Linked DNA regions of Homo sapiens: region 2 is linked to region 1. The links come from fine-mapping of genetic effects on gene expression. A gene starts in region 1. The other region holds a variant in brackets. All regions are shown on one strand. Distances are between the middles of the regions. Region 1 holds the start of GLP1R (glucagon like peptide 1 receptor). Region 2 holds the start of MIR9983 (microRNA 9983).

Region 1 (10,304 bases):
GCTCAGCTTACACTTGTGCAAAAGGGAACAGCAGCCCCTCCCCCATGGGATGGCTGTGGGGACTGAGTTAATGCTTAGGATGGTGGGCACATGGAGAAGGCTCAGTCAATGGCAGCAATCCCCATGATTTCTACTGTTTAGTGGAAAGGGCAGAGTGGGAGGGAGTGACCAGGCTTCCTGGGGACTGGGGCCCCACCCCTTCCTCACTTCTAGGATCAACATATTCCCAGAAAGAGGAAATGAATATATGTTCATGTCCAATGACCAATCATTCTGCTTAATTTGTGAGATCTTCCAGCAGTAACCACAGCCAATGGCAAAGTGAAGCAGGGAGGAAGCTTTGGACCCCATGCCCTGTGAGGAGGGGCAAGGCCCTGCCCACCAGTGTCCCCCACTCCTCCATTTCATCCTCCCACAACATAAGTCCCTGCTGCAAGCCTGACAAGGTGGGGCTGTGGGTTCTGGGTAGCGGGAAGGATGCAATCCAGATGTCCCTGTCCCTCACAAGGCAGCAGAGCTGACCAGGAGAGCAAAGCAGCGGTCAGAGGGGGTCTAAAGGGCCATGGGAAGGGCAGGATGGCAGTTTCTAGAATCAAGACTTGACAGGCTTCATGGGATCTCTCTGAGGTGGATGAAGGCACGTGGAGACGACACCTGGGTTGGAGGTTACAAGAAGGAAGGGGCATCCCTCAGATTCAGGAGTTTTTGGAGGAAGCAGGAGACAGGAAAGAGGACACCAGGAGGGAGTGGTGTGGTCTACAGGAAGGAGCACTGGACAGCGATTTATAAGTTCTTGGTCTAAATCCCAGCTCTGTTAATGCAGGACTGTGGGACACGATTTATCTTTTAGGACCTCAGTTTCCTCATCAGTTGCCAGTTCTGCCGTCCATAAAATGGGCATATCATTCTTCTCAAACTGCACAGATCCAACAAGATAAAGCAGGTGAAAATCTTTGTGACTTCTCAAGCCCTGTACAAGCAGGCAGCGTTGGAAGGAAGGACAGCAGAGAAGGAAGCAGGTGGAGTGGAAGCCCCCGGGGTGGTGGGCTTTCCAACACCCCAGGAAGGGGCTCCCTCTCCAAACACTGGCTGCCAATCTGAAAGGCACTCCTATTTCTCAGTGCGAATAAGTGTATCAGATTCTTTCTTTCTCTGGGGACCATTTTGGTGACGGGAAGGAGGTGGCACAGAGGTGGGAGACATGCAGGAAGGCCTCTCAGAAGGAGGAAGGAGGGATTCCAACTCAAATTTCTGGAGTCCCCCAACTAAGTCCAGCCCTTCAGGTTCCCTGGCATCTCCTCCCAGGACCCCAACCTCCTTCCTCTGTGTCACCTCCCAGAAGTCAAATCACCCCTTCCATCAACAGACCCCTGTCTCTTTGACCGCCCCTTGTTTTTCTTTCTTTCTTTCTTTTTTTTCAAAAGCTCAGAGCTTACAATCCATTTTTTTTCCCTAAGGGCTTTAGATATCTGAACGAAAGGACAGGAAAAGGAATACTACACACATGTTCTTACAGTCACAAAAACCCCCACGTGGACACACGGTCACACGCATCATCACACACGCCCCCAAGCACATTCCCAATACTGAGACACTGACACAGACTCTCTCCCACCACACACAATCACTCACAGACTGCCAGGTACACAGTCGCATGCTGAGACACTGTCCCCAACACACACACACAGAGGAACACACAGACACTCTCACATGCACACTATCTCTCCTGCACATATAGACACACACTAGTTGACACCCATTCACACACCAAGATGCCCCCCCCCCCACACACACACACAGACCCTCCCACAGACACAGTATCATATGCAGGGTCACAAAAACATAGACACTGTCAGATGTACAGTTGCATGCTGAGATGTTGCACACACAGGGACTCATTCCCACACAGACTGTTACACACAGGGTCACTCACACATACCTGGGAACTGGGGGTTCATATAGCCTACTCCCTTCTCCCCCTGGTCTGTCTCAGACTACCTGTCTGTATCTCTGTCCCCTCCTCCAACCACCACCACCACCACACACACATAGGAATTTTCCTAGGGGCAGGCTGCAGCTGAGGAAGCCTGTTTTGCCTTGGTGCAAGGCATTCGAGGGCAGGATGTGGTTTCTTGGTTGCTCCTGCCCCAGCCCCCAGCCTGGGTCCTGTCCAGGAGGAAACCCAGCTTAGAACAATGTCCGCACTGATCAAGGCTCAGCCCTGGACTCCACCTGCCATTCACTAGAGTACAGAGACCCAGGGTCTCCAACAGCCCCTCTCTCATACTATCCTGCAGCCCTGGAAAACACTTCTGGATCCCCAAGGACAAATGGGTCAGTTCTGCCATTTGACTAAAGTGACTAAAGTTGCCATTTCAGGGGCCAGTGTCTCAATCCCCTCCATAACCCTATGTGATAGAGCTTATGATCCTTATTTACAGATAAGGACATGTATTGGGGATAACCAAGTGTCCAACTCCAGATCACCAGCTAATAGCAGACCCTATATTTGAATCCAGTTGTGTCTGATTTTAACTTTGAGTGTCAAAGGCTTGCCTGTCTCCTCAGTAGGCCCGCTCCCTCACCAGGGTATTGGAGAGGTAAGGACCAGGGTAGGGGAATGAGCCTTCCCAGCAGCAATGAAAGAGTAGCCTAGGGCACCTTCTTCAGAAGTCAACTCAGCCATCCCCCTACCTGCAGGGATGCTGTTTCCAGCCTCACGAGACCTGACAGTGAGCAGCTCACTCTCAGAGGTCTCCCTTCAGTCCCGTCTGAGTAGGAGGTGTTAGGTCAAGAGCCCAGCCCTTCACCCCTTTCTCTTCCCTGCTCCTGAACTGCTGGGCTACTTTATACAGGGGACCCTCTTTTTCTGAGCTTTCATTCCCCCATCAGCAACATGAGGGGAGTAACTCTAACCCTTTTGACTTCATAGACAGAAAACAAAATGCAAAATACACTATTTTTTAGTCTTATAAGCACGCATGATGTTGTGTCATAATTGTTGCAATCTATCCTTAACACCTCCTGTGACTCAGATCTCTGTGGCAGCTCAGTTTCCCATGACAAGAGCACCCCCTCAAAGCTCCCCTCCCTGCTAGGACCTGTCCCCTCCTATCCTTCTCTACCACCCCAATCCTGTTATGCCCCCAGGATGCCCAGCTTTTGCCTTAGGCCTGGGGCTAAGGAGTAAAATCGGATCAGAGGAAAGTGTGGGTTCAGGAGCCTGACACTTCTGGGAATAAGGCCTCTGGGAAGACAGCTCACAGAAACTTTCCTCTTCCCTTTGCTTTCTTCCCTTCATTCAAACCAGACCTGTAAACCTGGCCTGGAGGAGGATGGAACCAGGAAGCAGAGCCTCCACCCCTATCCCAACCCAGTCCGTAAGAGGAGGGAACGATGGGCAAGAACCACATCTTGGGTCTGCAGCCCTGGCCCCTGAAAGATCCCAGCCGCACCAGGAAAACCAAGGCCTGGCTGGGGGCGCTGTGAGGAAGGTGTCTTGGAAGGGGGAGGTTGTCTCCTGGGGCTCAGGACAGCAGCTGGGCTGGGGAACAGGGGCAGGGAGAGGATGCGTCTGGAAAATAATCTGGGGGCTGAAAAATGTGCTGGCATCTTAGCTGAGAGGTATGTCTGTCCACATCTGGGGTTTCCGCCGAGGTGGAGTCTGCCCTCACCAAGGCAATGGTTCTGGGACAAACTTCAAGGTTCGTTCAGGTCCACTCCCCACAGATCTCAGTTCTTTAGGTCTGGGGGTAGCAGTGGGAGGTGATAGGAAGAACCTGTTTCCTGACCCAGGACAGGCCACCCAAGTCTATGTCTCCTCTCTGCTCAAGCAAGTCCCAGCATCTTTGGACAGCTCCCCTCTTCAAAAGCAGCTGACCACTGTCCCTAGCCCAGGATCCCAGGGCAGGAAAAGCAACAAGGGCAAGAGAGAGGGGCTGCGGTGGTCCACCTGTGGCCTGCTCTCTGGTGGCACCAAGGAGCCCAGGTGTTCTTGCGTGTCCCAGTATGCCTTCTCTTGGGGCCTGCTGTCAGTGCAGGATGAGAATGGGAGGTCAGCAGAGTGGGTGAGTGGGGGCGCCTGGCTGCTTCCAGGGGGGCACTGAGCCTTCTGCCTGTTTGCTACAGAGGCTGGTAGGGGACGGGGGGTAGGTTCCATCTGGGAGGTCACTGGGAAGGACAAGCTGCCACCGCAGGGCCCCAGGAGCCATGAATCAAAGGCTGTGCTGGGGGCTGATGAGAAAGGGAGAGGAGCCGGGTCTCCGCACCCTGGCCCTCTCAGCTCCTCCCAGGGTCTTCTCAGGGTCTTTGAGCAGGTGGATTGTCTGGGGAGGCACTGCGGGAGAGGGGTCTGGGTCAGACTGTGGGGCAGAGGGAGTCCGGGAGGATGCCGGGCTGTGCCAGGGCCGCTGACACGGTTTAGAAGGAGTTGGGAAAGTGCTGGGGACAAAGGAGAAGCGGAGCAGAAGTCAGCGCAGGGCGGCCGCGGGGCAGCGGGTGCCCGGGCAGAGGGACCCGGGTGGCGAGGAAGAGGGCGCCTCGCTGGGGTTGGGGGGAATCCTCTGTAGTCCAAGCCCTCACCTGGGCCTTCCAGCCCAGGGGCACCAAGTCTCCAGTCCCTACTCCCCCCGAGGCTTTCGGATGCCCCCGCCAGCGGTCTCGGAGTTTCGTTCAAGTCCCGGGGCCCTCCACCAGGACACTGCGCCTGCAGCCCGCAGAGCCACCCGCCTCCCCCGGTGTCGTCGGGGTCCCTGGATCTCACCTGGGGGCGGGGGCCGGCCCTGCCCACCATCCCGAGCAGCAGCAGCGCAAGGCGCAGCGGGCCGGGGGCGCCGGCCATGGCGGGGAGTTCAGGACTGGGCCATCGCTGCCACCTGCGGAACCGCGTGCGGAGACTGATCCCGGGCTGGTGGCGGGCGGTGGGGGAGGAGCCGGCGAGGGGCCGCCCTGCCCGCGGGAGGGGCCTGGCAGGGTCCCGGTTCTTCCGGCCGCCAGAGACCCCTGGGCCCGCCCCGCCGCACCCCTCTGCCGGTCCCGGGCCAGGAGATAGCGGGCACTGCTCTCCGAGCGAGCGCGGCTGGGAATCAGGAAGCGCAGGAGGCGGCCACCAGCTCTGAGCGCCGACAGTGCGCCTGGCCGGCTTTCAGCGACAAGCCAGGCCCTCCTCCCACCCTGGCACCCCGGACCTCCTCCCGGGTCTCCCAGCTGAGGAAAGCTACAGCAACCCCCGCCCATTCAGGGTCCCTCAAAGGAAACTGAGGCCTGAGGAATGGACGGGACTTGTCCAAGGTCACACGGCTTGGCAGGCCACTCCTGGAAAGTATCCTCAGAGCCAGGGGTGACTAATAAGAACTTTTTTTTCCCAGGATTACCCCTTCCCAGGTCCTCTTCTCATTCCCATGTTCTGTCCTGAAGGCAGGCCCAGGATAGTCAAGGTTGGGGGTGGGGAGACTGACAAATGGATCCACAGAACTCTGACAGTCGCAAGGGTCTAGAGGTTCCCCTCTACCTGGAAACTTCAGCATTGCAGGGCAGGGAGGGATGAGGCTGGGGTCTGCCTTTCTGGAAGCTTCCCTGCCACCTCTTGCAGCTCCAGCCTCCTGCTCTTGTAACCTGTGTATGTGTGATAATGTGTGTCCATGGTTGTTCCTGCCTTCTTTATCTCTCTCCCTGCTTCGCTTCTTGGGGACTCTGGATCTTTCCTGTCTGTTTCCACTCCCACCCCTAAACACTGCAGGGCCCTCAGGTTCCCTTCTTACACCCAACAAGTGGAAAGAGAATGCTAAGAGGGCACTGACTGTATCTTCCCTAATGCTCTTGAGAAGTGGGGATGGGAAAAGAGGATCCCCCACCAAAGAACCTTGATGCCACTCTTAGGAAAGATGAGTTGTGGCAGAGCCCAGCCTCGGACCTGCCGTGGGGCATGTCGACTAAAGGGACAGGAAGTTTGTGAAAGTAGCTACTCCTGGGGAGAGAACTGAACTTCTCAAAGTCCTGAGGAAGGCTGGACCTGCCTGAGCCCAGGGAAGGAGACAGCCAGTGGGAGGGGCCCCTGGCTTCCATTCACCAGGAGAGACTCTCCTCTCCAGCAAGCTCTGGTTCCACCACCTGAGACTCGTTTATTCCCTCCCCTCCCAAGAGGTCAGTCTAGCAGGGACCTTCTAGGTATCACTTAGGATTAGGTTGTTCACCTGGGAGTGACAGAAAATCCCACCCCAAACAACAATGGCATAACCAAGGGCTCTCTCATGTAAAGCAAGGCCAGAGGTTCAGCCCAAGGTTGGAGTGGCTGCTCCCTGATCATCAGGGTGCCTGGGTCTTCTAGCTTCCACCATCCTTTGGTCCAAGATTTCCACCTCATGATCCAAGGTGGCTGCTCCAGCCACGATATCCAAATTCCAACCAGCAGGAAGGAGGAATGGGAAGGAGATGGGTGCACCTCCACCCATAAAGACACATCTTGAAAGTGGCAGCCATCAATTCCACACCTCTTGCTCAGAACTTAGTCACATAGGCACTGCTAGCTGCAAAGGAGGGTGGGAAAAGCACCCTCTATTCCAGGCAACCATGGGCAAGGTTAAATACTGGGCTTTTATACTCTAGAAGAAGGCAAATTTTAAAAAAGATACTGGAAGTGAGTTTTAGGCACTGCTATATCAAGTTTAGGGTGGAGAGAGGAGAAAGGAAGAGATAGAGAAGCTATTCAGACAGAACTGGGGTCTTTATCATGAATTTGTCAGCCTCCAGATTACATTGATTCAGCAAGTATCTATCGAAAACCTACCATGTGCCAGACACCATTCTAGGTCCTGGGGATACAATTGGTGATGCTGTCCCTATCTTCAGAGAGATTATATTCTAATACAGGAGGGAAACATTAAATAATTATTGGAGTCATTTATAATTGTGTAAGCACTATTATGGTAAGCAAATGCCCCCAGTACTTATAAGGCCATGTTTTCTCTGCCAGGGGGCTTTCTCTGACTTGGAGAACATTTTTGCATTCAGCCAGTGCAGGGTAGGTACCCCTAAGAGCAGCTGTCAACCATGGATGGACAGGAGTGGATGGATAAATACCCCATCCAGAGGTGTGTACCACAGTCTCCCAGAGGTCCCCTGTGCGATGGAGCCCAGCTTCCCACAGCAGTTACCTGCTCAGTAATGCACCCTGTGTTGGCTTCATTTCCTCACTTGTCCCACTTTCCCACAGTAGGGTACCAGTGCTTCCGGGGTCACACCTCACATAAACAATTTGGCTGGGCATGGTGGCTCACCGTCTGTAATCTCAGCACTTTGGGAGGCCAAGGTGGGCGGATCACCTGAAGTTGGGAGTTCGAGACCAGCCTGACCAACATGGAGAAACCCCATCTCTACTAAAAATACAAAATTAGCCGGGCGTGGTGGTCCATGCCTGTAATCCCAGCTACTCGGGAGGCTGAGGCAGGAGAATCGCTTGAACCTGGGAGGTGGAGGTTGCAGTGAGCCAAGATCATGCCATTGCACTCCAGCCTGGGCAACAAGAGTGAAACTCCGTCTCAAAAAATAAAATAAATGAAAAATAAATAAATAATTTGTCCTTAAATCCTTATCTCAGGATCTGCTTCTGGGAGAGCCCAGCTGAAGACAGTGGGCATATGAGGGTATTTAGGAAGCTCAGGGCCTGTCCCTCCTCTTAACATCTGGGGGTCCAAAAACCTCTGAGTTTGCTGTGATGCTAGGACAGAGTATGGACTCGGGAATACAGTTTCCTTCTTTCCCCTTGCTGTTACCAGGGCCTCTCACTCAGGCTCCTTAGAGCAGAGGAAAGGATGAGCTCCCTAAGAGCAGAGATTTGAATGGATGGCATACTGTTTGGTAAACTGTTAACACCTGTAATCCCAGCTACTCGGGAGGCTGAGACAGGAGAATCGCTTGAACCCAGGAGACGGAGGTTGCAGGGAGCAGAGATCATGCCACTGCTCTCCAGCCTGGGTGACAGAGCAAGACTCCATCTCAAACAAACAAACAAGCAAAAACCCTTGAAAACAAAGACAATAGCTACTACTTATTGGGCCAGGAGCTGCTGAATGCTTGGTGTACCCTGATCTCATCCAGTATTATGCACAAGTGTTATTGTGCCAATTTTATGGATGAGGAGACCGAGGCTCAGGTATGAAAAGTGAGTTGCCCATAAAAGCAAACAGGGCATTCATCCCAGGTCCACCTGCCCTGAGAGCTGGTGCCGACACCCCCAATAGGCAGCTGAATTTGTGGCAGCACAGAGGATGCAGGCTGCAGCTCAGCCAGCCTGTCCGGGAGCACCTCGCTCTACAGCCCAGAGCTCCGGGTCCTGCTCCTTACCCTTAGGCCCAAGGCTTCTCCAGTGACCCTAGCGTGGGGTGCCCTCAGCTTCCACTAAGAAAATGTGGTATTGAGATTGTCTTCAGAAATAGGAATGGGAGCAACTGATGTGTGCTCCTGAGGAAAAGGTGCTGTAAGGCCCATTCGCCAAGGAGGCAGACCTGAGAGCAGGCCACCCGGCCCTCTTTTGTCTTCAACAGGAAAACCTTGTCCCTAGCAGGAAGACCAGGTCAGTGGACAGGACAGATTTTTTTTTTTTTTTTTTGAGACAGAGTCTCATATTGTCACCAGGGCTGGAGTGCAGTGGCGACACTGCAACCTCGCCTCCTGGGTTCAAGTGATTCTCCTGCCTCAGCCTCCCCAGTAGCTGGGATTACAGGCACCTGCCACCACGCCCAGCTAATTTTTGTATTTTTAGTAGAGATGGGATTTTGCCATGTTGGCCTGGCTGGTCTCGAACTCCTGACCTTGTGATCCTCCCGCCTCAGCCTCCCAAAGTGCTGGGATTACAGGCGTGAGCCACCGCGCCCGGCCCAGGACAGATCTTTCACTTGAGAGGAGGCAGGAGGGAGAGAGAGGCAGGAAAAGAGAGGGAGGTTGTAGAGTGGAGAGGAGGAGAGGGAAGGAAAGGGAATTGCTAGAAAAGACAGGTGTCTCTTCTTTTTTTTAATTTTTTTTTTGAGACAGAGTCTCGGTCTGTCACCCAGTCTGGAGTGCAGTGGCGCAATTTCAGCTCCTTGCAACGTCCGCCTCCCGGGTTCAAGTGATTCTCGTGCCTCAGCTTCCCAAGCAGCTAGGATTACAAGCTTATGCCACCATGCCCAGCTAATGTTTGTATTTTTAGTAGAGACAGGGTTTCACCATGTTGGCCAGGCTGATCTCAAACTCCTCGCCTCAAGTGATCCACCCACCTCAGCCTCCCAAAGTACTGGGATTACAGGCATGAGTCACTGAGCCCGGCCAGGACAGGTATCTCTTGCACGCATAGTTCAGGTTTCTTTCCAAGCTCCATGTCCCTAAGAAACTCATTTACTTCCCAAAGTTCAAGACCACATTCATCTTCTGAGTGATGAAATAAGGAAAGAGCCAGCATTTTTTTCAACCTGATATAAACACACATGCATACACATACCTAAACACAGATTTTTAGAGTCTGACAGTCAAATCCATCTCAGTCACTTACTCTGTATCCTTAATAGCACTAAACCTTGGTATAAAATGGGTCCAGTAATAAGAACCAATATTTACCGAGCATTTGCCTTGAGCCAGGCACTGTTTTAGGAGCTGTATATGTGTTATTTCATCTAATGCTCACCATCGCCCTCAGGCTGGCCCTTGCCAGACAGTCTGAAGATCTGCTGCTGAGAGAAGGCAGAGACCTCAGCAGTGGGCCAGGAATCCACTTTCTGCCAGGAGAACCTGGCTGCCAGCAAGTCCTGGGGGCAAAGGGGGGTATCACGAGAGGATGCCTCTTTAGGTAAGGGCTCTACCCCTCCACCTCCTGCTTCTCTTCTCAGACCCTGCCCTGGGAGCAACCCTGAGTTGTAGAGTGGGATTTTTTTTTTTTTTAGATGGAGTCTTGCTCTTGTCACCCAGGCTAAAGTACAATGGCATGATCTTGGCTCACTGCAACCTCCGCCTCCCAGGTTCAAGTGATTCTCCTGCCTCAGCCTCCCAAGTAGCTGGGATTACAGGCTCCCGTCACCACGCCCAACTAATTTTTGTATTTTTAGTAGAGATGGGGTTTCATCATGTTGGCTGAGCTGGTCTCGAACTCCTGACCTCATGATCTGCCTGCCTTGGCCTCCCACACCTGGAATTACAGGTGTGAGCCACCGCGCCCGGCCCATTTTTTACCCCAATTTTACAAATGAGGATGCTGATCCCCAGTGCACTTAGGTATTGAGACAGCCCAGGAGAGCCTGGATGCAAACCCCCACAGACCCACACACTAACTCCCCATC
Region 2 (10,304 bases), 23 kb before region 1:
GGGGCTCGAATTCAGGGCTGCAATCCCATACCCACTCCCACCGCCCTCAATGGCCTTCTGCACTGGCTGTCTCCATGCTCGTCTCCGTTGGCCCCTCCCTCAGTGTTGGAGATGTGTCTGAGATAGGTAAGCATGTGCATATTAAGGTATGTAGACATGTGTGTGTGAGGGTGTGGTGGGTGGACCATGAGTGTGCACGTATGACTTTGGGAATCTCTGCCTGGAGCACATTTCCAGGACAGAACCACTTCATAGCCTTTCCTGTCACCATTGTCTATGTCTTTAGCACATCAGTGTCCACTCAACAGCAGCTACTAAGCAGGTTGTGTGCCCAGATCTACTGTGCCTGATGATGCAGGGAGAGATGGAGGAGGCAAAGGAGCCCCCAGCGGACCAGCATTCTTCATCAGCTCTCTCTCTCCTGGCCCATTGATTTCTACACAAATCGGACCTCTCAGCATCTACGGTGCTTTAGTAACAGGCCTTTATGAGACTGGACAAGGAATGGGATGGTCTCCAAAGGCCCCAGCACATGGTACAGGCCCTGCCACATAGAAGATGCCCAGTGAGAATGGAACGAATGATGGGTGAGTCAACACACCAATAAGGGAAGGAACATTGTCTGGGCAAGAGCATGCCGATTTCCTGAACCACGTACACATGCAGAAGCTTCCTTCTGGGTATCCCTCGCCCCCTGCTGTCCCTTCTCTCTGAGACCTCCTTCCAGGATCAGGGCACTCACCCATGTTATCAGCCAGACCTGGCAAGTTTCACTCATCGTCAGCATTTCCTTAACAAGGCCTTTTCAAAAAACACAGTCACGAAAGCCCTGCTGCATGCAAACATTACGCACTCCCTGCTGGCTTCATCTTTCTCCCATTTAGAAAACGAGCAAGACAGGTTGGAGAAAAAAGCTCAAATTAAGACACACACAACTGGCTCCAGGAAGTAATGATTCCCTCAACCATCATTTGCCTCCCTCTTGCACAGCCTCCATGTGGGTTTCTACAGGCCCCCAACTGCCTGGGGACTGCAGCAGAAGCTGCCATGCCCTTTGGGGGACCTCTCCAACTGTGTCAGAGTCCTAATTTTAATTCTTCCACTTGCACATGAAGCTGAAAGTTGTTTCCCAAGTATCCCAGCTTGGGCAAGGCCTCCTGGCATCACGTCTGAGCTCCTAGCAACCTGTGAATCTCTCTCCGTCTCCCCCACCCCAATCCTCAAGAAAAAGGTGTTCTGATTAGAGCAGGGTGTCCTCCGGGTCTTGCCCTTGTGCTCCCACAGACCCCGAGCCCTGAGCTAGGGTGTGAGGTGGTAGGAAAAGGACTTGGCACTCCCTCCCCCATCTCCCACTCAGAGACCTCTAGGGCAGTGTGTCCCCACCAAACTCCAGCCACCCCCGCTCCTCTGCACACATCACACACGTCCCTTGATTGTTCCTGCCCTCGGGTCGCCATGGTGACAGGCACTAACAGCGCTGATGCTATTTCCTAGAATGGACAGACACCGTCCCCCACCCTGAAGACAGCCTTCCCTGAGCTGCCCTCGATGGCCTCCCTCCTCCTGCTCTAGCAGGAGGAAGAAGCCTCGGGGAGAAAAGGCCAAGGAAGGGACTGGGTTCTGGGAGTGGAGGAGGCAGGTGAGGAGCAGGGATCTGTGAGCAGGAGCCAGGCCTACCTGCCCACCTGTGCAGAGGCCTGAGCCTGCTCAGGGGTGCTGCAGGGGACTGAAGGGATGCAGCCCAGGCAAGAGAACAGGGCATGATGGCCGCAGGCCCAGAGCCTGGGAGTCAGGAGGCCTGGGTTCCAGGGCCTGCTCTGCCTGTAAGGCCCTGCCAGCTCTGGGCCTTGGTGTCCTCAAGACACTGGTCACATTAAAATCTCTCAGGCTACTCTTCTCCTGGGGGGTGGGGGGAGCTGTATAGAGAAAAATGGCTGAGGAACACCAGTAAAAATAAATGAAGTGCAAGGACAGGGGATGGAGAGCTTGAGAGGGCAGAGAGCACAGAACCACGAGGACTGGTGGCCTGAGGCAGCTTCCTGAAGAGGCAGCGGACACCCTGGTGTGGGAAGGATGCTCCCTGAACATTCCTGCATGGAGAACAGCCTTGCAAAGGCTCAGGGACAGGACCATTGTCAGGGAAGAGGAGTCTGGATGTGACTGAGCTGGAAAGTCCCCGGAGGTCCGTGGCAGGGGCAGCCGTGGTCAGAGCAGCGTGAGGTGGGCGCATGAAGGAAGGAGGAGTGAATGAAGGAGTGGCAAGCAGGGCGGGGGATGGTGTGGAACAGGAAAACTCATGGATTCAATGGCAGATTAGGGAGGACAGAGGGCAGGGCCTATTCTCTGGGTACCGTGGGTCCCTCCAGAAAGGCCTGTTGCATGTTTTCCCAGGGGTGAAGGGGATCCCAGCCCCCTTCCCAACCCCAATGCTGCCCCTCATTACAATCCCACGTGGTGAGAGGCAGAAGCACAACCAGAAATGTTCCAGCAAAAAAAAAGACACAATGGTTCTTGGCAAACTTTTTTGGCTAGAACATTTCCAGCTGGGCTCCAGGCACATCCGCCGTCCACCCTTTCCTTGGCTGGCCTCTGGCCCCCCTGCCCCACTGTACTTGGCTCTCCTCTGAGCCCTCCTCTTCATCGTCATGTGACAGAGCACCAGCAGGCTCCCCCCAGCCAGCCCCCTACCCTCTTGATCCCCTCCCCACCTTGAGGCCCAGGACTCACCATTTCCCTCAGGCCCTCGGGCTGCCCGGGACTGGGTGTGAACTTATGTCCCCATGTGGTCTTAAGAGAACAGTGCCATGACCTCCAGTGGTGTGCATGATAGTGGTAGAGGGTGGTGTTTGGCCACATGCGGTGGAGGCTTCCATTAAGGGAGGAGAGTTATGCAGAGGAGGGGAGGACCATAACCCCCTACGGCATCTTAACAGCACCGGGGCAGAAGGTCCTGTGCCCAGGAAGAGGGTTACCCAGTGGGCCTTGCCCCTTGCTCAGCAGTGCGTTCCAAGTACCATGTTAGAAGAGGGGTCAAGGTCTCCCACCCCCGTGCCACAGGTCCAGGGTGGGTGATGGCGGTTCTTACCCCAGCCTATGCTCACGTAGAGCCTGAAGATCCATTGCTCAGATAAGACCGAGAAGGCCAGCAGTGTGTACAGGTACACGCCCTCCACCAAGAGCCAGTAGTAATTGGCCGCCACACAGTACTGCATGAGCAGAAACACCAGGCGGCAGCTCAGAGAGTCCTGGGGGTAGAGGAAGGGTGTCATGGGGACAACAGCTCTGCCCTCTGCCTCTCTTGATACCACTCCCCGTCCTGCTCCAGCCACTATCCTGCCATGGTTAATGCAGGAGGAGAGAGCTCACATCTCTGGCTAGGGCTAGTGCTAAGGACTTTATCTGCTTTAGCTCATTGAATCCTCACTATCCTGATTGGAAGAAAGTAATGTATCCCCCTGCAGGTGAGAAGTAAGTGACTTCTCACCTATTTCTCAGCCTCAGAGAAGTAAGTGACTTGCCTAAAAGTGTACAGATAGTAAGTGACAGAGCTGACATTCAAACTCAAGTGTGTCTCCAAAGACTACTCTTTTGTGTCAGACTGAGAATTCCCTAGGGCAGTGTCTCCTCCCTTAGATTGGGAGCTCCCTAAGGTAGACTGCCTCTCTCAGCAGACTGGAGGGTCCCAAGGCGAACTGCCTCTCCCATCAGACTGGGGGCTCCCGAAGGGCCAGGACTGTTCGGCTCTTGTCTTCTCCTGTCCCAGGCCTGTCTAGGGTGGCAGAGGCAGGCCTCCTCCAACCGCCCATCCCTCCTGAGGCGGTCCTGGATGCACCACACACCTGGTAGGAGAGGAGCCCATCCCACTGGTGCTGCTGGGCGGCTGTGCTATACATCCACTTCAGGGCTGCGTCCTTGATGAAGACGGACAATGCTCGCAGGATGAAGGATGCAAACAGGTTCAGGTGGATGTAGTTCCTGGTGCAGTGCAGGTGTCTGAGGGAGAAAGCAGGGCCTTTCCCTGGCAAGGCAGCCAACAGTTCTGCTCTACAACCCCAGGCTCTCAAGCTAACACACACATTAGGCATGTTTCCAGCCCTGGGACTGTGCGTGTGTCTTCTTCTATGAATACCCTTCTTCCTCATCATCGTGAAAATCCTTCTGTCCAACTCAAATCCTGCCTCTCCATGAAGGCTTCCGCTATGTAGTCACTGCCCCCTCCTCCCATCCACATTCTATCCTTCTCTCTGCAGCATCTTCTTTGACACAAAGTCTTGCATAACCAAAGAGATTTATGCATGAGGATCAGTTTCCCCAGTGGGAACACTGCTTCTTGTTGACAGGGCCCACATCCTAAATGCCTCACAGAGGCAGAGCAGGACTAGGCACTTGGTAGGAATTCAGAAACTATTGGATAGAGTTTTAATATCCTTTCATGTGAAAATGTGTAGCAAATTGAAAGTACAGGGGCATTTCTTAACCTAATGAAGGCTATTTACCTAACCAGGGGCAAATATCAATCTTAACTGAGAAACTGTGGGAGCATTTCCTTTGAAATCAGGAACAAAATAAGGATGTCTGTTATCACTGCTTCTAGTCAACATTGTAACTACAGATCCTGCCCACTATAATAAGGCAAGGGAAAAATGTACAAGAATCAGAAGTAAACAAAATAGTTATTATTTGTAGATGGTAGATTATCTTCATAGAAAATTCAAGAAATCTATGGACAAATTATTAGAACTAATAAGACAGTTTAGCAAGGTTGCTGATAAGTATGTTTGTATATGCCTGCGTTAAAAAAATTTAAAAGTAAATGTTTAGAAATAATTCTTTTGCAATATTTTTAATTAACTAGCTTGAAATGAGTCTAACAGAAGATAGGTAAGATCTCGATGGAGAATTTTATAAATCTTGCTTAAAATCATTAGCGAAGACTTAAACTAGTGGGAGATAGATACATCACATTCACAGATAGAAAGACTCGCTACCTTAAAGGAGTCAAGTCTCTCCGTATTCATAAAAATTCTACCTTATTTTTAAAGTAGAACTTTAAAAACTTATAAAGAAGAGCCAGGGCTAAGAATATTCCAGACACTCCTAAAGAATCACAGAGGAGGAGATTTTGCTATATGATTTCTAGTAAATCTACAGTAGCTAAGGCACCATGGTATCCGGACAGGGAAAGATAAACAGAAAAAAACTGTAGGTGACTGAAACCAACCCATACATACGTGGAGCCTTGCTGCATGGAATGGCAGTCATTGCAAACCAAGGGGGAAGGAAAGGCTATCAATAAATGGTACTCAGGCAGCTAATTCCACATACAGAAAAAAAAATGAAATCCTTTATTTATATCATACGCAATATGAATTCCAAGCAGATCAAAGAACCACAAGGAAGAGCAAAACTCTGAAACTTACAGAAAATATAGACGGCCATCTTTATGACACTAGGGTAAGGAAAGATTTCTTTTTCTTTCTTTCTTTCTTTTTTTTTTTTTTTTTTTTTTGAGATGGAATCTTGCTCTGTCGCCCAAGCTGGAGTGCAGTGACGTGATCTCGGCTCACTGCAGCCTCCACCTCCTGGGTTCAAGTGATTCTCCCGCCTCAGCCTCCTGAGTAGCTGGGATTACAGGCGGGTGCCACCATGCTCACCTAATTTTTTGTATTTTTAGTAGAGATGGGGTTCCACTGTGTTAGCCAGGATGGTCTCGATCTCCTGACCTTGTGATCCACCCACCTCAGCCTCCCAAAGTGCTGGGATTACTGGCGTGAGCCACCGCACCCAGCCAAGGAAAGATTTCTTAATAAGACTGTCCAGAATTTGTTCTTTGGAAAAAATGAATAATTTTAAAGCAATCAATAAAATTAACTGTT[A/TA]TCAACTGCTTAATCTTTATTGATAAATTTTATTTATCAATACTAAATTGATAAACTTTATTCCATTAAAATGAAGAACTTCTGTGCATAAAAAACCATAAAATGAGTGAAAAAATAAGCCACAGACTAAAGAGAGGGTAAATCCTGGATAAGTATCCAGAATATATAATGAATATGTAAAATAGAAAAGAAAAACCCAAATAAGCCAATGAAAAAGTAAGCAAAGGATATGAAAAAGCAACTCACAGAAAAAATCATGAAAAAAAATGCTTGATCTCTTTGGGAATCTGGAATATGCAAATTAAAATCATAAGGCAATTTCACATACTTCAGGTTAGCAACAATTAAGTCTGAAGACACTAAATATTGGTGAGAAGGCTAGACAAAGGAAGCTCTCTTTTATTACTGATGAGAGGGTAAACTGGTGTGACCACTGTGAAGAACAACTTAACATAGTAAAATTGCGAAAGCAGGTGGTAGTCAGACCTGGCAATTCTACTCCTAGTTATATGCCCCAGAGAAATGCACAAGTAAGAATGTACATTGCACCCAACATTTGTAATTCAGAAAGAAAAAAAGAGAACAACTCAAATGTCCATTAAAAGGTTGACAGATAAACTGTGCTGTATTATACAACGGAATATGGAATGGTGGTTAAAAATCCACAAAACAGGACTGCTCGTGTCAATGTGAATGAATCTCACACAAACATAATGTTGGACCAAAAAATTACAGAAAAATATTTCTATGATTTGAATGTTGTGTTCCTCCAAAATTCATGATAAAACTTAATCCTTAATGCAATGATAGTATTAAGAGGTGAAGCCTCCAGAAGATGATTAGATCATGAGGGCTCTGCTCTCAAGAATGGGATTAGCGTCCTTATAAAAGAGGCCTAAGTGAGTTTGTGAGCCCTTTTTGCCCTTTTGCCTTCTGTGATGTGAGGGCATAGTGTTCACTCCTTCCCCATCATGTGAGGACACAGTGAGAAGACACCATCTCAGAAGCAGAGAGCAAGCCCTTACTAGACATCAAACCCACTGGTGCCTTGATCTTGGGCTTCCCACCCTCTAAATTATGAGAAATAAATTTCTATTTTTCAAAAATTACCCAGTCTAAGGTATTTTGTTATAACAGCAGGCACAGACTAAGATAGAAATTGGTACCGAGAGTGGGGAGTCATGTAACAAATACCTAAAAATGTAGCAGTAGCTTGGGAACTGGGTGGTGGGATAGAAAAAAGTCTATATTTCCACAAATGGGCCATACAAGGTGATTCTGGTGAGAGCTCAGAAGAAGATGAGAGCTATGTAGAAAATTTCAGTCTTTTTTTTTTTTTTTGAGACAGAGTCTCACTCTGTCGCCCAGGCTGGAGTGCAGTGGCACGATCTCTGCTCACTGCTCTGCTCACTCCGCCTCCCAGGTTCACGCCATTCTCCTGCCTCAGCCTCCCGAGTAGCTGGGACTACAGGCGCCCGCCACCGCACCCAGCTAATTTTTTGTATTTTTAGTAGAGACGGGGTTTCACCATGCTAGCCAGGATGGTCTCGATCTCCTGACCGCATGATCCACCTGCCTCGGCCTCCCAAAGTGCTGGGATTACAGGCGTGAGCCACTGCGCCCGGCCAAAAATTTCAATCTTCACAGAGATTATCTAAGTGGTTGTGAACATAATAATGGTAGAAATATGAACAGTAAAGGCCATTCTGATGAGGTCTGAGATAGAAATGAGGAGCATGGCATTGGAGACCAGAGGAAATGCCATCTTTTTGTTACAAAGTGGCAAATAACTTGGCTGAATTGTGTCTATGTCCAAGTGTTTCATGGGAGCAAAGACTTATGAGCAATGAAATAGAATATTTGGTGGAAGAAATCTCTAAGCAAAGTATTGAGGGTACAGCATGGCTGCCCTTGACTGCTTATAGCAAAATATGAGAAGAGAGAAATGAAAGATGAAATTTATAATCAAAAGAGAAGGAGAACTTAAAGATTTGGAAAATTTTCAGTCTGACCATATTGTAAAGAATGCAAAAGCATGTTCAGGAGACAATACCAAGGGTGTGGCCAAGTGAACATTTAATAAAATTAGTATGGGTAGAAAATGGAAGAATGACCCTGAATGCACTTCAGAGATCTTTCAGGTCCAGATGTCAGGGTCTTGAGAGCAGAACAGTTCTGGGGGAGGAGCCCAGGACACTGTGAGGCATTGGAAGTCACTGCCCAGGGCCACCTCCTGTCTCTGCTCCCTACACTTGGGTGCAGTGCTCCTTGGCTACCCTAGCTGCGGCTCAAGTGGGCCCAGGTATAACTCAGGCCGTCCCTCTGGAGGACGTAGCAGTAAACCTCGGCAGTGTTCACGTGGTGCTAACTCTACAGACACACAGAGTGCACGAGCTGTAGGGAACATAGTTACTTCTTTGAAATCCAGGAAGACCTAGATTTCAAAGGATATCCTGGAGAGCCTCAGGGCCCAGGCAGAGTGGAGGTTTCTAATAAATCTATAGTAGTTAAGGCACAGGTGTGGGGCCGCTACAGAGAGTCCTGACTAGGGCAATGACTAGCAGAGTCATGGGGGGCAAGATTCTCCTCCAAGACCCCAGACTGGTAGAGCCACCAGCACACAACTCCAGCCTGTGAGAGCTGCCACATGAGCTGAACCCAGCAAAGCTGTGCGAGTGGGGCTTCGGGGAGACTTGGGGACCCAACTCCCACCTCCATATCAGGAAGGCAGGACACTGAGTCAAAGAAGATTATTCTCAAGCTTTAAGATTTAATGTTGTTTGTCCCATTAAGTCTGGATTTACTTGGGACCAGTTACCCCTTTCTTCCTTCCTATTTCTCTCTTTTTTTATTTGAATTTTAATTCTTTATTTTTTTCCAGATAAAAAAATAAACAATTGTATTTATTTAATGGTCTCTTACATCGGTCAGGCTGGTCTCCAATCTCTGGCCTCAAGCAGGCTTCCCACTTTCGCCTCTCAATTAGCTAGGATTATAGGCATGAGCCACCACATGCAGACCTATTGCTCCCTTTTGAAATGGGAATGTCTGTCCTATGAAATGAGAATGCCTGCCACAACATTTCATTTTGGAAGCACATAACTTCAGTGATTTCATAAGTTCACAGCTAGAGAGAAATTTCCTTCAGGAGGAATCATCCCTTGAGTCTCACACATACCTGATTTAAATAATATTTAGATGAGACTTTGGACTTAGACTTTAAAGTTAATGCTGGGATGAATTAAGACTTTGGAGCCATTGGGATTAAATGAATGTATTTTGTATGTGAGGAGGACAGGAATTTGGGGGGGCCAGGGGCAGAATGCTATGGTTTGAATGTTGTGTCACTCCAAAATTCATGTTGAAACTTAGTCCCCAAGGCAATAGTATGAAAAGGTGAAGCCTTTAGGTGATAAGGTTGATGAAGGCTCTGCCCTCACGAATGGGATTAGTACCTTATAAGAGACCTGAGGGTGTTTGTGAGAGCTTTTCACCCATTTGCCCCTCTGCCATGTGAGGACACAGTGAGAAGGTGCCATCTTGGAAAGAGAGGACAAGAACTTACTAGACATGGAATCTGCTGGTGCCTTGATCTTGGACTTCACAGCCTTCAGAATTGTGAGGAATATATTTCTGTTATTTAGAAATTACCCAGTCTAAGGTATTTTGCTATAGCAGCAGGAAAAGACTAAGACAAATATGTTCAATACACTATTAAAAATACACAGAACCTTGCTATATATTTCTATAGCTACTCACAAATGTGGTAAAAGTACAAGGAAATGTGTCGGAATTAAAAGAGGCACATTCAGGGCTTACCTCTGATGGGTGTAGGGCAGGGAGAGGGATGGGATCAGAGAGGGTTACCCAGAGAAGTGTAACTATGGGACATGTTATTTCTTAGGCTGGATGGTGTGTGCATGAGTGATCATAGTATCAGTCATTGCATTTTTGAATCACTGGAATAATTCATAATAAAAGAGGAGAATATTCATTGAGTGAATGCATTTATTGAGCACCGTGTGCCCAGGACTGTGCCAGGTGCTTTGAAGGTAGGAGAGGGAATGCCACCTCTCCTGCTCTTGCTGCCTGGTGTCCTGAGGTCTCATTCTCTCAGAATCCCTTCCCTCTTTGAACCCAGTCCCCCTGGCCCCCCTTCTCCAAGTGCAGAGGAGTGGGAAGAACCTGGTACTCTGTTCCCAGCTCCTAGTTTGGAAGGAACGTCTCATCTAGGTTAGATCTAAGGAGGAACTTTTCCACTGGGGCTGAAAAGCTCCAAAGGGAGGAAGATCTCTAATCCCCAAGATCTTTTCTAAAATCATACTGAATTCTTGATTATTAAAGTTACACATGTTCATTGGAGAAGATCTCCTGGGATTTTCCGTAATCCCATCACCGACGGTTAAGGTTTTGAGGTTGGTGGTGCTT

The links. PIP is the estimated chance that this variant, and not a neighbour inherited with it, causes the effect. A credible set is the group of variants that fine-mapping cannot tell apart.
Region 2: its variant is the best candidate, but not a certain one, in a credible set for the expression of GLP1R in whole blood (TOPMed, PIP 0.58).

The regions. Positions count from the first base shown.
Region 1 is chr6:39,043,377-39,053,680 of GRCh38, reverse strand. GLP1R (glucagon like peptide 1 receptor) reads right to left here and starts at 4,900. Exons shown (of 13, transcript NM_002062.5): 1 at 4,763-4,900. The coding sequence starts at 4,840. RefSeq lists an enhancer at 3,716-4,216.
Region 2 is chr6:39,066,551-39,076,854 of GRCh38, reverse strand. GLP1R (glucagon like peptide 1 receptor) reads right to left here. Exons shown (of 13, transcript NM_002062.5): 6 at 3,840-3,993; 7 at 3,086-3,245. It overlaps MIR9983 (microRNA 9983), which reads right to left and starts at 2,541; the gene lies at 2,474-2,541. RefSeq lists an enhancer at 2,271-3,128. The variant A/TA (reference allele first, on the strand shown) is at 5,877.